Regions from separate parts of the Homo sapiens genome. Here region 2 is linked to region 1. A link means that fine-mapping ties the variant in region 1 to the expression of a gene that starts in the linked region. Tissue or cell type: whole blood. Region 1 holds a variant in brackets; the other region holds the start of a gene. All regions are shown on one strand. Distances are from middle to middle.

The links. PIP is the estimated chance that this variant, and not a neighbour inherited with it, causes the effect.
Region 2: ECHDC1 starts here. The variant in region 1 is fine-mapped to the expression of ECHDC1 in whole blood (INTERVAL, PIP above 0.99).

The regions. Positions count from the first base shown.
Region 1 is chr6:127,374,216-127,377,067 of GRCh38, reverse strand. No RefSeq gene overlaps it. Among named protein-coding and RNA genes, the nearest start is that of ECHDC1, 32 kb to the right of the region's middle. The variant GA/A (reference allele first, on the strand shown) is at 1,320.
Region 2 is chr6:127,342,408-127,345,083 of GRCh38, reverse strand. ECHDC1 (ethylmalonyl-CoA decarboxylase 1) reads left to right here and starts at 1,475. Exons shown (of 6, transcript NM_001002030.2): 1 at 1,475-1,748. RefSeq lists enhancers at 1-442, 1,317-2,190.

The DNA.
Region 1 (2,852 bases):
CCCCAGTGTAGCAGGCACTGTTGACACACTGTCCAGAACCATACCTTCCGTGCAAGCCAGCAGGTTTTCTGACAGCTAGTTACTGCATTTGCATCAGAGAGCTGCCCTCAGACTTGGCTGGAGAACATGGCAAGCCAGAAGTACCCACAAATTGATGGTCTCCAGGAACAGACCTGAACCAGTGACTCACTTGTATGGGGTCACAACACAGCTGTCATCATGCCCTCAATAGAATCAGCCTTTTACACATGTGTTCCATGGCGTTCCAGAGCTTCACCATGGGATTAGGCTCCATTTGCCCATTGCAGTAGCTTGTTTTGTGACACTGCCTTTGCTACAGGAAAGCCTTCCTGATCCAGACCCCAAGAGAGGGTTCTTGGATATCACGCAAGAAAGAATTCAAGGTGAGTCCATAAAGTAAAGTGAAAACAAGTTTATTAAGAAAGTAAAGGAGGTCGGGCACTGTGGCTCAGGCCTGTAATCCCAGCACTTTGGGAGGCCGAGTTAGGCAGATCACCTGAGATCAGGAGTTCGAGACCAGCCTGGCCAACATGGTGAAACCCTGTCTCTACTAAAAATACAAAAATTAGCCCAAGGGCATCTTAAATTTAAAAAGGCAATCAGCCAGGAATTAAAGAAGGCTAACAGCTGGGTGTGATGAAGGAAAGAGTCAAAGAGAGCACTGCTAAAGCTGCTCTCATCTCAGCTGAATGTTCCCATGCCCAAGGTTGTGCCCTCTAAGGAGCAACATCAAAGGCTTCCCAGTAAAATAGTGCCATCAGAAGCTAAATGAAAAAACAGGCAAATAATAACAAGCACCATGAAATGAGGGACAATTATATCCACAATTGCTACAATATATTATTTAAGTGTCTAGTTTTCAGAAAGAAAAAAAAGAGACATGAAAAGCAACAAAAATGTGTGACACACACACACAGGGCCGGGCCTGGTGGCTCACGCCTGTAATCCCAGGACTTTGGGAGGCTGAGGCAGTCGGATCATGAGGTCAGGAGATCGAGACCATCCTGGCTAACACGGCGAAACCCTGTCTCTACTAAAAATACAAAAAAAAATTAGTCAGGCATGGTGGCGAGTGCCTGTAGTCCCAGTTACTTGGGCTGAGGCAGGAGAATGGCATGAACCTAGGAGGCAGAGCTTGCAGTGAGCCGAGATTGTGCCACTGCACTCCAGCCTGTGCGACAGAGCAAGACTCCATTTCAAAAAAAAAAAAAAAGAAAAGAAATGTATGATGGTAATATCTCATTAAAGAGAGAATATATTAAAAATAAATTATCTAAAAAAAAAAAAAAAAAAAAAAG[GA/A]CCAGGCCAGACACAGTGGCTCATGCCTGTAATCTCAGCACTTTCAGAGGCCCAGGTGGGCAGATCACCTGAGGTCAAGAGTTCGAGACCAGCCAGACCAACACAGAGTAACTCAGTCTCTACTAAAAATATAAAATTAGCCCGGCATGGTGGCGCATGCCTGTAATCCCAGCTGCTTGGGAGGCTGGGGCAGAAGAATTGCTTGAACCTGGGAGGCGGAGTTTGCAGTGAGCCGAGATCACACCATTGTACTCCAGCCTGGGCAACAAGAGCAAAACTCCATCTCAAGAAAAAAAAAAAAAAGACCAAATAGAAATCCTGAAGTTGAAAGGTTGAAAGTACTGACTGGAATCAAAATTTAAAAATTACTATAGGGCTCAACTACAGATTTGAACTGGCAGAAGAAGAAATGAGCAAACCTGAAGCATGAAGACAGGCTAATAGAGAATAATACCCAAAAAGCAGAAAGAAAAAAAGAATAAAGAAAAATAAAAAGAGTCCCAGAGGAATGTGTGACACTAAGAAACTCACCAACATACATATAATAGGATTACCAGAAGAGTAGAAAAAAACTATTCAAAGAAATAATAACTAAAAATTTCCCAAATTTGAGGAAAAACAATATATATATATCCAAGAGGGTTAACAAGCTCCAAGTAGGAAAAGCAGAGCGCTATACATAGAAACATCATAGTTAAAGGGTTGAAAGTCAAAGACAAAAAGAACTTATTTTTATTTATTTATTTATTTATTTATTTTTTGAGATGGAGTCTTGTGCTGTCGCCTGGGCTGGAGTGCAATGGCGCAATCTCGGCTCACTCCAACCTCCACCTCCCGGGTTCAAGGGATTCTCCTGCCTCAGCCTCCCAAGTAGCTGGGATTACAGGTGCCCACCACCACGCCCAGCTAATTTTTTGTATTTTTAGTAGAGACGGGGTTTCACTATGTTGGACAGGCTGGTCTTGAACTCCTGACCTTGTGATCCACCCACCTCATCCTCCCAAAGTGCTGGGATTACAGGCGTGAGCCACTGCGCCTGGCCCAAAAAGAACATCTTAAAAGCGGCACAACGAAGATGAAACAAGGACAATCCCAGACAAACAAAAACTGACAGAATTGTTAGTGATCCTATCTTATAAGAAATACTAATGTAACTGCCCAAAGGGTTCCTCCTGCCTCCTGCACAAAGACAGACCATGGCATTGCAGTAAAGAAAGAGTTTAATTAGACATCAGGCCAGCCACACCACACAGAAGATGGAGTTAGTACTGCAATAATTCTCCCTAAAGCTTCTAAATTAGGGGTTTTGCATAGGCAGTTTGGGTGAAGGGGTGGAGGTCGCTAGGCTTGGTGCTGATTGGTTGGGGTGGAGATGAAATCAAAGGGGGTCAAAGCTGTCCTCTTGTACTGAATAAATTCTGGGTGGGGCCACAGGAGCAGGGTTGGAGGGTCCAGGTAGTGTTAGACGTGAAAAAAAAACTGAAAAGATATCTCAAAAGGCCAATCGGCAATAGTAGTATTATCTGCAGGAA
Region 2 (2,676 bases), 32 kb after region 1:
GAACCTGGGTTCACTGGAACCTGGGGCTGTAGGGACCAGCAGTCAGTGGACCTAAAGCCTATATCCACTGGTGCCAACCTGGAGACTGGGGCTGTAGGGCCCAACCTGGTGTTGGAGCCTGGTGCCTGAAACTATGGGGACCAACATGGGGAATGGAGTGGGCATAGATCTAGGCGCCATGGAGATTAGCCTAGCATTGGGGTGATCTTGGAGTCTCAGTGAAATGGCTCAGTGATCTTGGAGTCTCATTTTATAACAAACTAGAATTAAATACAGTACTTCTAATAATGACTTCTTCCAATTAGTCCAAACTGGGCTCCCACTTATTCCCTATCATACACATCTCCGTATCGTAAAACTATCCTCCCTGTTCGGCGCGTTGGCACATTCTGTTCCTCCGACTAGAATATTCCCTGTACTTATTCAAATCATACCTATGACCACTGCAGAACTCCAGGAACATGACCATCCCATCTAAACCCCTGCGTTCAGAGACTTGACCAAACTCTAGCAAGCTTTAGCAGCATAAGGCCCTGTGCCCAGGGCGACTGCCTCAGAAAGCTTAACTACGTGATGTAACCAGCACACAACTGATGATAGGTCTCTGACATCCCTTTCTTAGAACGTTTACTAAAGGGCTTGCAATTGTAAAGACTTATTTCTTGCCACTCAGAAGTTCTCTCTCAAGGACCAGAGAGTCATTCCTTTGAAATGTAATCGAGAAGGATAAAATCCTCCGTAGGAGGATAGAATCCTGCGGTAACTGTTAAAACGCGCGCACACACAAACACACAGCTGGCCTAATCACATTTACACTAACAACTCTGTAGGTTCACTTTCTCTACTGAGCGCCCGCATATCCCCTTTCTCCTTTTAAAACGTCCCTTTAAAAATGCCCAGATGATCTCTGCACGAATCGAAATAGAGCTCAGCTCTTTCCTGTCAGTAGTTAACTGAATGTTTTCACCGCTTTAACGTCCAGCTGCGCTTATCTTTGACATCGACTACCTAAGGTCTACCTTTAGTCCCACGACTCTGACAAAATGATCTCAATATTGGTGTAAAATCACCTCCCCTTTCAAGGGTCTTCCAAAGCACTTCCTGTCTGCGGCATACAAAATGTATTGGCACGGAATTTTAAGCTTACTGAGCTTTATAAACACGTCACATTCACACATTCAAGACACACACTGGATATTCGGATAAAAACAAACAAACAAAAAACTGGCTAAATACCCATTCCCCTCAATAACTTGGATAAGATACCTAAAAAAGGTCGACCTTCGGTACCTTTCTGTCTTCTCCCCTCTCGCTATTTGCCTACACTGGCTTCCTCACCTCCACTTTTTCTCACGTTTATCTGAGCGAAAACAAGCACGGTTCGGCAGCCTCCTTTCCCAGCCCTACCTTTGTGCTGCAAAAGCGAAAATTCAAAAGCCAAGTACAATAGGAGACCGCCCACCCTGGCTCCCTCGTGACACGAGGGAGCGCGAAGCGGAGGGCGCCTCGCGGCAGGAGCGGGATTTCCGGGGTCACGGGAACCGGCAGGGGAACGGGATAAAGTTCCCGGAGAAAGGAAAGGAGAGCGTGGGATAGTAAAAGAGAAGACGCGGAGAAGAGGAGAGGACCTACAAGAACGGAGGACAGGGGCGCACGATGGTCCCGGGGGGAGCGGAAACAAAGGCACGCAAAACGGAAAAGCGTGTGTAGGGGAGCGGAAAAGGAAGTCACCACCGTGGCCTGCGACGGTAAGTGGTCGTAAGGGTTGGTCTTAGCGCTTCAGTTTAGTGTTGTCAGTGGGAGAATCCTAAAATGTCGCCGTGGAATGGACTGTACCGCTCGCTTCTCCAAACGTGTCCCAGACGGCGAGCCTCCCCGGCTCCGCGGCTTGTCCCTTGCAAGCGCCGCGCAGGCCTGCCCCGCGCTGGACGTGGAGACGCGGTGCCGAGCGCCACGGGCCGGCTGTGCGCCGGCCGGGGAAAGAGGGCGAGGGGAAGAGATGAATCGGTCTTCCCAGAGCGCGCCGCGAGGTCGCGAGATTACACTTTAAAAAGCATGAGGAGGCTTGCTTTCTACATGCTGATTTAATTTCGGAATACATTCGAGGCCCTGTGCTAAGTTAGGTAATGTTCCCTATAATTGTCTTTTATGTATAAGTTGTCTTGCCTAACTAAAACTTTTCTTACTTGTATCGTGCAGCCAACTTTTCAAGAACGAAAGATGAGCAACTCCTTTCTGGTAGAGGTTCTTTCATTGGAGAATTTTTGAGCTACAATAATCCTTTTAACGCTGCGCACACATACAGGGATTACACGTGTAGGGGATTAAAAACACAGTTAAGTTTAGGTTGAAGGTGCTGTTAAGGACTTCAGGCAACATTAAATCAACACTCAGTTCTTTGCTCTGTTCCACATCTGGGCTCCTGTATAGCAGTTGTTGCTCTAGGTGCTAGAGGTATGCAGAGGAACTGGACAAGGGCAAGGAAAACAAAGGGCTCCTTCTTTAGAAGAGCTAGCATTCTCTTGGAACAGACAAGCTTGTGGTGAGAAGTATATTTGTGAAATCTACGAGGGGAGGGAGCAGCGCAGTAATAGAACGGGCGATCCTTTCTTGATTTTTTATTGGGTTCTGGCCTGAAAGGCGACTGTATAATCAGCTGGGATTCCTGCAATGATT